Linked DNA regions of Homo sapiens: region 2 is linked to region 1. Evidence: fine-mapped expression QTL. A gene starts in region 1. The other region holds a variant in brackets. All regions are shown on one strand. Distances are from middle to middle.

The links.
Region 2: its variant is fine-mapped to the expression of MAF in skeletal muscle (FUSION, PIP 0.91).

What each region holds. Positions count from the first base shown.
Region 1 is chr16:79,598,430-79,603,798 of GRCh38, forward strand. MAF (MAF bZIP transcription factor) reads right to left here and starts at 2,308. Exons shown (of 2, transcript NM_005360.5): 1 at 356-2,308. The coding sequence starts at 1,473. LOC101928230 (a long non-coding RNA gene) reads left to right here and starts at 2,458. Exons shown (of 3, transcript NR_188556.1): 1 at 2,458-2,560; 2 at 3,618-3,921. RefSeq lists an enhancer at 2,223-2,517.
Region 2 is chr16:78,873,223-78,878,591 of GRCh38, forward strand. The region is part of intron 8 of WWOX (WW domain containing oxidoreductase); the gene reads left to right. Among named protein-coding and RNA genes, the nearest start is that of WWOX-AS2, 380 kb to the left of the region's middle. The variant T/C (reference allele first, on the strand shown) is at 2,694.

The DNA.
Region 1 (5,369 bases):
AGTCCGGGGGTGGGGCGGGGGGGTGTAAAAAAAAAAAAAAAACAAGCTAGCAAGTTATGGAGAATTTCAGATTGGCAATCCATGAGCCAGACACCCATTCCCTCCCCAGTTTAAAACAGCCACCACCACCACAAACTCGAGCAGGGTGTGGGGTGTGTGTGTGTGTGTGTGTGTGTGTGTGGTGTGTGCGTGCGGGTTTGTGTGTGTGTAGGGGGCCAAGGGGGCCAAACTCGGTGGGGGTGGGGGTGGTGAGGTGGTGGCGAGCATGGCTCTAGAACTAGCAAGCCCACACCCGAGCCGGACCCCCGCGGAGCACTTATCAGGGTGGCTAGCTGGAATCGCGTGTCAGACTCACATGAAAAACTCGGGAGAGGACGGGTTGTCGCTGCTCGAGCCGTTTTCTCGGAAGCCGCTGCTCACCAACTTCTCGTATTTCTCCTTGTACGCGTCCCTCTCGCGCACCAGCCTGGAGATCTCCTGCTTGAGGTGGTCGACTTGCTGCAGCAGCTGGTTCTTCTCCGACTCCAGGACGTGTCTCTGCTGCACCCTCTTGAAGCGGCAGGACTGGGCATAGCCGCGGTTTTTCAGGGTCCGCCTCTTCTGCTTCAGCCGGATCACCTCCTCCTTGCTGACCCCGCGCAGCTGCCGGTTCAGCTCGCGCACAGACATGGTCACCAGCTGCTCGTCGGAGAAGCGGTCGTCGAAGTGCAGGCCGCCGGCGGCGTGGTGCGGGTGCAGGGCGCCCCCCGCCCCCGCCGCGCCCCCGCCGCCTCCGCCGCCGCCGCCGCCGCCGCCGCCCCCAGCGCTGGCCGGGCCACCGCCGCCCGCGCCCCCAGCGCCACCGGCCGAGGCGGCCGCGCTGCCCGCGGCGCCGGGCGCGCCGGCCGTCGGGTGGTGGTGGTGGCCGGCGGCGTGGTGGTGGTGGTGGTGGTAGTGCGGGCCCGCGCCGCTCTGCGCGGCGGCCGCGGCGATCACGGCGGACACCACGGCGGCGGCGGGGCCCATCTCCTCGCCGCTGCCGCCCAAGGAGGCGCCGGCACCGGCCCCGGCCGCCGCGGCCAGCTGCTGCGCCCCGCGCGCGTAGCCATCGAAGCCGCCCTGGAGCTGGTGGCTGTTGCTGATGAGCGCCTCGACCGCGTCCTCGGGGCTGAAGCCCAGCGCCTCGGGGTTCAGCTGCTGCGGGTAGCCGGTCATCCAGTAGTAGTCTTCCAGGTGCGCCTTCTGCTCGCTGCCCGAGCCCGGGCTGGGCGCCGAGAAGCTGGGGGAAGGGGGCACCGAGCTGCACGGCGTGCTCATGGGGGTGGAGGACAGCGAGCCCCCGGCGATGAGACGGCCGCACTGGCTGATGATGCGGTCGGTCTCCACCGGTTCCTTTTTCACTTCAAACTTCATCAGATCGAAGTCATTAACATATTCCATGGCCAGGGGACTGGTGGGCAGGTCGGAGTTGCTCATTGCCAGTTCTGATGCCATTCTCCTGCCGCCGCCGCCGCCGCCGCCGCCGCTCCGCCAGATGGGCTGCAGGAGAGGGGCCAGCGGGCTGTGCTGGGTGGCCAGCGGGTGAGCCAGCTTGCCGGGCTGGGGCGCTTCTAGCTTGCGCGGCGGTGGCTGGCCCGAAACCTCCGAGCGCGCTCACACACACACCCCCCCGCCCTGCCCGCGCCCCCCGCGCCCGCCCTCCCTCCCCCCTGCTCACGCCAATGTGCTCCCTCGCTCGCCCCGGCCCCTCCTTGCTCGCTCGCCTCCTTGCGCGCCGAGCCGGCGGCTTCAGGCTCGGGAAGATCCTCCGCGAGCTGCGGTGGCGGCGGTGGTGGCTGCGGCGGCGAAGCTGGAGGAGCCCGGCCCGGTGCGCGGCGTCCCCCGCTCGCCGCTCCGCTGCGCGCTTTGCATAAGGAAGGGCTCGCCTCGCCGGCCCGGGCTGCAGGCAGGGCGCGCGCGGCGTCCGCTCGGGGCTGGAGGCGCGGCGGGCGTCTGTCCGGGCGGCGCGGGCCTTGGCACGGGGGAGTTAACACTTCATGCTTCTCGCCTCCTCTTCTGCTTGGCTCTCTTTATTATTTTTTTTCTTTCCTCTCTCTCCCTCGCGCGCTCTCTACCTCTGTGCAAAGTGCAAGGCAGAGGTGCAGCCCGACTGGAGGAGAGGGAGGGGGGAGTTTAGTTCTTTCTTGCCTTTTTTTAAAAAAGCAAAATAGCGAAGTCCTGGGGAAAGACGAGGCAGAGAGCAAAGGGGGGAGGGGGAGGCCAAGCCGACAAGCAGCCCGAGCTACAGCTAGAAGATGAAAAAAGATTTTAAAGCCTCTGATCCAGCAAGAAGAGTTTAAAGCAATTGCTGAGTTTTATAGCACTCGTGACGTCAGGTCCAAATGAGAAATTGACTGGCACTCCGGGCCAATGGGAGGCGGCGAGAGCGGCCGCGATTAGCATAATAGTATAGAAACAAGGAAACTTTTCGGAGCTGTCAATCAGGGCCCAATCAGCTGACTGTCAGCTGGGACGGGCTGGCTTAACCCTTCCTGCGCCGCTGCCTACCCGGGAGGGAACGAGGCCCGGCGCAAAGTTTGGTGTAAGAGGGGAAGGAGTTTTTCCAGAGGGGCTTCGGCAATCCGGGCGGACCTGGGAGGGCGGTTTGCTTTTCTTTGGAGCGCGAGACAGGCCTCCCATCCGGAGCCCCAGCTCGCTGGGGGCTCACTCGGCTGGGATTGGCCTGATTCCCCTCCCCTGCCTGCCCTCCACCCCCAGGATTGTGAATTCGCCTCCCAGCTTTTCCTCCTCGCACCAACTCTGGTACCCAGGTGTCTGCCGGGGACCTTCCTTCCCTGAGCCTGGCCGTGCCCGGCGCTCAAACTTGGCCCCAACTCTTTGTCCGTCTCTCGGGCGCCCGTGCGGGGAAGGGACCGGGAAGGGAGGGATGCAGTGGGGTGTCCGGATCGGGGCTGCGGGCTGGGCGCCGCCCGGCCATGCGCCTGCCCAGAAGGCTGGGCATCCGTGGAGAGGGAAAGCCCATTTTATCCCTCTCTTTACAACGAGGTAAAATAAGTTGTTTAGAGGCCATTCTTCACGGAGACCGGCTGCCCGCTGGCGTCGCGTGCCCTTGGACAGAGCGAGCGCCTATGCGAGATAACTCCGGGGAAGCTCAAAGTCAGGTCAGCCGGGCTCAGCCTTCCGGCTCCTGACTGGCCGGAGTTTGGCCTTTGAGACTCATATTGCGCGCTCGCTCTCTCTCTCTCTTACACACACACACACAAACACACACACACTCACACTCACCCGTCCCCTTACGAAATCTGACCTCTGTTTATCAGGGTCAGGCGCGCCCTTTGCACTTTTACGTTTCCTTTAATTATTTCGGACTTGATCGTGGCAGGGAGCAAGGGGGAAAAACAATACCCCAGCCCTCACCAGCTACCCTCGAAGGGTTAAATTTTAAACCGCGGTTTCTGGAACTAGTCCGGAAACGCAGAGTGGGGGGTGGGGTGGGGGAGGCTGCTCCCCCCACCCCCAGTTGCAAATGCTAATAAGTAGTTCAAATTTCTAGATTGATTCTCTAAAAGTTTATGCAAAAAAGAAATAAAAAAGAAAAAGAAAAAAGAAGGAAACCAACAACTAACTCTGTTTCTAAGATTTTAAAGCGATAGGCAAGTCGAAGAAGCAGAGATTTATTTGGAGAGAAAGCTCCTGAAACCGACCCAGCCTTTGGAAGACCAGCCCGTCTGCTTAGAAGTTGGGACTGTTGATTCCTTCAATTAATGAAATGCATTTGGTGTTTTTAATCGTATTTATTTTACTTTATGAGAAGGGGGAGACGCTAGGAGGGTGCATTAAAAAAAAAAAAAAATTCTGAAAAGCCTGCAAAAGGATCGAAGAGTGGAAACTATTGTTGGAGCGAGTTGGTTTTTACCTCAACAGCGCCACCTTTCGGCAAAGGTCAGTTGAAATTGATCCGTGTCCAGTTTTGTCGATGAAGTGAAAAGCAGCTGGTTACCCAGTGTGGGAGGAGGAAAGAGACACACAAAGTTAGTTTGACTGAAGTGGGAGAACCCGACCCTATAGGAAAGGGGCCGAAGAAAGTGCTGGCAGATGCAGAGATCATTTTTGCCCCTCCTCTTCTCCTTGATTGTTGACAAAGAGGCCAGGGGATACAGACACCCTCGGGGTGTAATTTCTGGCTGAGACCTTTGCAAGAGGATCCCCATGTAACAGGGCCCCAAACCCTTTAAAAGTGCCAGGATGGATTTTCAACGGGCTTTATGGCAATATCAATAGGATTAAAGTTACTTGTAATTCAGTGATAAATGAGATGTCTCTAGTAAGTAAGATTAAGTGCAGTGCTATAAAGTTGTTTATCTGGAAAGTAATTCTCAGAAAACCTGACTTCTGACACTTAGTCATATATTAAGCCAGCGTCTTGAACATTGCACTTCAGAATGGTCTTCCCCACCCCGCAGCATGCTTTGCTATTTATAACCTCAGGTGTCTCTCACTCGTTCCTTGCACCATATTAGACCTGTGTTAATTTCTCTGATCCTAGTAGACTTCAGTTTCAGCAAACCCAGGAATCCTTAATGGAAGACTTCCCAAAAGATTCGTAGGCACACCCTAATCTGAAAAGGGCAGCGCTGTCGGTATTTTTCAGACAAGTAGTGTTTCTTTTCATCGTGACTGCAGAGAAGTTGTTAATAAGGGTAGTTTTGGTCTTATAAGAGCATTTTGTTGGGTGGAATAAACTATGTCTATTACCAGTTTGGGGAAGAAAGAGTGAAGATTATGTCAATATTTATGCAACCTAGCAGAATTCCCTTGCTTTCCTTCTCTTTAACAATATTTTCCCTAGTAATGAAGTTAAGGGATTATAGTTTATTTAGAGGAAAATCCACACTTTCCATTACATAAGCATTATGTCATTTAACATTGCCCGTAACAATAGTTTTCTAGGTCTTTTTAAAAGTCAGTAGTCACAAATGTAGGAAGTTTATATTTTTCATGTAAAATATGAATTTAAGTGTATTTAGAAAGAATTTATTGTTTGTTTATGATATACTTTTAATCCTTTTGCATCATATTTGTGTTAAAAGCTGTAAGGTATGATCATTGCCTCTGAAAGCAGTATTATAATAAATAATAAATAATATTTTATACACAAAGTTTGCTAATGATGAAGACTGTGCCATACACATTCATGGCTGAGTATCTAATTGTTACATTGTTATATATCATTTCTAGAAATTAAATGCCCATGTTTGGGCAGCTAAATATATTATTATCTGCACATTTTTATGGTTTATTTATGTACACTGCTGTGAAGACATGGTATTTTTATTTCTCTTATTGCAAGGTCTTTTATAGTCGCCCATTTTCTCTTGGAAAAAAAAAAG
Region 2 (5,369 bases), 730 kb before region 1:
ATGCTTGATAAAAAAAGTTTAAAAATTTGTTTTAGATAGAGGTTTGAATGTCACTAATTACCAACGTGTAGCTCCTAATTGGAATTAAGAAGGGACTAGCTCCTATTATCAGAGATCTGGTCATCACCCTTCAAGTTGACTATCTCCTTATGCTGATTTTTTTTTTCTTTTAAATAGCAGCACAAATATTTACCATCTAGCAGATGTGGTAAGAATGTAAGTTGTTCAGCCATTTACAGCTTAGTCTTTGGGAGATATCCATTCATTTTAAATACTTGGAGGGCCAGGCACAGTGGCTTATACCTTGTAATCCCAGCACTTTTGGAGGCTGAGGTGGGAGGATTAATTGGGGCTAGGAGTTGGAGGCTAGCCTGGGGAACATACTGACACCTCATCTCTATAAAATATTTTTTAAAACTCAGCTGGGCATGATGTTGCATGCCTGTCATCCCAGCTACTTGGGAGACTGAGGAGGACGATTGCTTGAGGCCGGAAGTTCAAGGCTGCAGAGAGCTGTTATTGTACCACTGTACTCCAGCCTGGGCAACAGAGAGACCCTGCCTCAAAAAGTAAATAAAATAGTAAAATAAAACGAGATATTTGGAAGGCTATGTTTTTTTGCCAGGCCATGTGCTTAGTCCCTGGGAGTATAGCGAGGGGCAATCACAGGTCAGGTCCTAGTGTCTCTGAAGACTTCATTCTAGTGGCCATTGAAAATGTGTAACTACCCACAGTAATCAAGTTAAAGAAAGGTTCTGGCTGAGCACGGTGGCTCATGCCTGTAATCCCAGCACTTTGGGAGGCCGGGGTGGGCGGATCACAAGGTCAGGAGTTTGAAACCAGCCTGACCAACCCTGTCTCTACTAAAATTATTTAAAAAAAAAATAGCTGGGCATGGTGGCACACGTCTGTAATCCCAGCTACTCGAGTGGCTGAGGCAGGAGAATCGCTTGAACCCAGGAGGTGAAGGTTGCAGTGAGCTGAGATGGCGCCGCTGCACTCTAGCATGGGCGACAGAGCGAGACTCTGTCTCAAAAAAAAAAAAAAAAGCTTCCATTTGAGCCGCCAGGAAAGGAGGCCCTGAGTTGGGGAGTTGAATAGAGAGCTGCATCCTGAACAGACATGATCTTGGGTGAGTGAGAGGCTAGGAGCGGAGGGAAAGCAGACGCAGTTGCTAAAGCTGTCAAGTCCCGCTCCCTTGGAATGCAGTCCTGGTTCTGCTACCTCCAACTGGGTCGATTTCAAAAAATTATGGACTTGTCTGAGCCTGATGTGGTGCCTGGCCAGGGCTCACTGCAGCGCCTGGTATACAGGAAGAACTTGATGTTATTCATGGCAAAAGATGTCTGGATGGTCTCCACTACAGATTCTGATGGCAAGTGACTTAAAGACATGTTGGCAATGGGTAGTGGACAAAAATTGAAACACCTTCAACTGTGTCTGTGACCAGAAGATTTTTTTCTTTTTTTTTTTTTTTTTTTTTTTGGCTGACTGTCATGACTTAGTAAGGCCATCACAGGTTGCCAGAACATCTACTCAACTGTTCCAAGCATAACCTCCTACACAGGCCTTCTACATAGGAGTATATTTGGCCAAGACTCACCACTAGAAGTGATTTCCACTGGACTTTCCTACAGCAAGTGGTAAATGATCCCTCAGATAGGCCCAAGAGCTCCCCTTCAAGCATAGAGACACAACCCTGTGAAAACATGCATTGGAACCAGGAAGGCCTGCCCCCATGACTTCACGTTGCATACATGCCTTTGAGGACTTGGCCTCTTAAAGGAATCTTTCAATATCCTATGCTTCTGAGAAAGTTACTATTTCATTTGCAGCAGGACAACTCAACAAGCTAGCTCTTCCTGCCCAGCAGACTCGGTGGATTCTGAAGAGGGTCTCGGGCTGACTCTCTACTTCATGGGTTTGAATTCAGGAATGTTGCAAGATTGCATGAGATTAAGCCGCTGAAACCTTTCTGAGGAAGAGCCAGCTCAAATTTCAGTGTTGGATGTTCACCGCTTCTTTAGGGTTCTACCACTCCCAGTAAATCAAGTAATAGGTTTCTGTTAAAAACCCCAGTGTGCTGATCTCAGTGGCAGCCATCTTGCTTTGTAAGCCTTCTCTAGCTTTATGATGCTCCCAGTATATAAGACATTTCCAGTGTCTAGTCCAAATTAGTATTTCTCTAATTCTCGAGTGTCTGATCTGCCTGGCTAGAATGATTAAAACAAAAAAATAGCAAATCAGTTTGACAGTCCACTTCATTAAGTGGAGGACAGTGTTTTGATTGCTATTTAATCTGTTTTTCCTTCTGTCTGTTCTTGGCTATATGGAATTCACTTTGCCTCTCTTCCCGACTCTTCATATCCCTTATCTCAAGGTGAGTATCGTCAGAATCCCGGTACATTTCACCAGCCACCTTTTATAGAAGCTTAGAAAGATGGAGGCAAACCCATAAACAAGACTTGGTTTTTCTAAGCCACAGTGGCAATTTCCTAGTCGATTACAACTGTGTCTACCCTTTCAACTGGCCTGTCAGTGTAGGCTCTGCATGTCCTGGATAATCCTACAATTGGTGACACGGTTATTGACTTACAGGTTTCTAGGGCATCTCATTCGTTTTTTAAAAGAATGTTTCTTCCACACTTTTATTGCTTAGTAGAAACTTGTTCTAATTCTTTCTCCTGATACCA[T/C]TTAGCCTATTAGTACCTGGGAATAATCACCCTCCCTTATCTAGTCCTACAGATTTGTTTTGTTTTGAGTTATACCCACTTTAGGTCTCCCACCCTCTCTTATTTTTATAAACAGGCTCCATGGTACTATATACACTGCAGATGGACAGCTGCCAACCTGCTCTTTTTGTGCTGAGGAACTCTAGATATTTCAACTAGTTTACATGACTTTCTTACCTACGCTACCTTATAATCCTTTTATAAATTTTGCTTTACGTTTTAACAACGGAAAACACTTAAGGTTTTTTTCCTTTCTTTTTTTTTTTAATTCTTCCGCCAGCTATCTTTAAAAGCAGTTCTAAAACTTCTTATTTTAATATTGTACCCATTGTACTTTAGTCTAAGTGATGGCTGCTTATGGCCATGCCCTTTCTTCTGCACTTTGGGTGTTTTGTCTGGAATTTTCTCTCCTTTCCTTTTGTGAAAAAGGATGAATTTTCCAAGACTCTGTTATGACAGAAACTCACCAGTTCTCTGTTGTTAATCAACAAATAGATTGTGAATGCTTGACTCTTCTTTTTTTTTTTTTTTAAAGGAGTTTCAAGGGTAAGATCTGCTGTCTTGTGAATGTCAAAGAAGTTTCTCATTCGCCCCTTTCTTCTCTCTCCCAGTGTCTTTAATTTGTTAATGCTTTCGACTTATTTTGCTTTGGATAATTTTCAAAGTACTGCTTTCTCTAGAGATCTCTAAAAGGCAGAAGTTCTGGCTATTAAAGATTTGCCATTCTCAGAACAGCCCAGTTAGGGTACCCTCAGGTTATTTATAACTGGATTTTATCTCAGAAAATTAACTAAAAGAAGATTAACCAAAAATCTAAAGGAAAATGCCTTAAACACCTCATCTATTATGCTGTGCTCAAACAGATATTTTCATCTTAACAGCTTGGCAAACCCAGTGGAACGCTCTTTCTAGTTTGGGGCATAAAATAAGATAACACTCTGAATTCCTACAGGAAATCTTGTAACTCTACTTAAAATTAAGGCATAAAGTAGGAAAATGTGTTTCCTCTGTATAGTCTTATTACTTTGCCTGTTAAGTTAACTGGTTCCTATTTCTGCTGGTTCGAAGAGGTCCAGGACATTTAAATAGCTCTTCTAGAAACAAATTCTTTTCCTTACAAGCCCTGCCAGGTCAGTGGGTTCAGTAAGGAAGAAGGTTTTGTATTTTGACAATTCCTTCATCTGTTAATTTAGTCAGACGAGGAAGGAAACGAGAAAAGTTATTCCTATTTCATCCATCTAAGACTTTATATCCCATTTCAGGCTGATTAAAAGGCAAAATCGTCACAGTAGGACACCAAACCCTCTGTATGCCCTGCCTGCCTCCCCCCCTCTGACCCGCCTGCCTCCCCCCTGTGAGCTTTTTCCACCTACTGGCCTCTTGTTCTTCTTCAGCTGTTCCTCAGACATGCCAGGTGTGTTCCTGTCTCAGACGCTTTGCCTTTGCTGCTCCTTCTGCCTGGAGTATTCTTCCACGTAGCACCATGAGCTGTTCTTCTCCAAAAGGCTTTGCTCAACTGACACTTTCTCAGTGAAGCTGTTTCTCACCACTCACTATAAAATGGCAGCCTGCCTCTCTGAGCCTTGCACCCTCTCTTCCTTTTCCTGCTTTGTATTCCTTGTGGCACTTATTATATCACATAGATACAGACATAGATGTGGACATAGATAGAGACATAGACATACATGAGTTTTGTGTTTATTCTCCTATTCTCTAGAAGAATGTAAGTTTGTAAGTACTGAGATTTTTGTCTCTTTTGCTCACTATTGTACTTCAGGGCCTAGAGGAAGGCTTAGCACGTGGAAGACAATATTTATTGGAGGAATGAATCTAGAAATATCCTTGGATGTATAATGTCCAACTCACTCTACCACACAGCAACATAGGTAGTTTTATATACATTTTATAGCTAAGCCCAGCAGCCCAAAAAGCTAAATGACTTCAGCGCCCACAGATACTCCTGGATGAGAGGGGATTGGAAACCAGGTCTGTTCAATTGCAAATCCCCTCTTGTGCCTTTTACAGGTCAGATGATTTTGTTTTTATAGGCTCTAGCAGGTCCCTTCTCTTTGCGTCACCAGAGAGGAAGATCCCCTAAGACAAAGCATTCCCTGTAGTTTTTAGCATAACTAGTACTGGCTCAGTAAGTATCCACTGGGGTTCGGAATACAACTGCCCTGCCTCTTGAGCAGCCATGCCTGCTTCCGAGGTGGTGCTGCATGCTATTCAGGAGGACAGACCATGGATGGAAATCCTGAGCCACAACTCCTTAGCCTCATGACATTGGGCAGATGACTGAGCTTGTCTGAGTTACAATAAATAAAAATACCATGCTGAATGATGGCCTAGCATGACATTGGGAAGTACAGACTTTGCAGGCAGGCCCCTGGGTTCAATTCCTGCCCCTGTCATTGAGTAAAGTAATTATCATAACTTTGGAACAAATTGACCTCTCTAAGCCTCAGTTTATTCTTCAGCTAAATGAGGATGATTGATAATCAAAACTATTTTATAGGGCTTGGGGGAGCATCAAATGAAATAACACATATAAAAGGCTTGGTTTAATCTCTGAAGCACATTGGCACTTAATAAATGTTAACTATAATTATATTAACACCTATTTTACAGGGTTGCTAT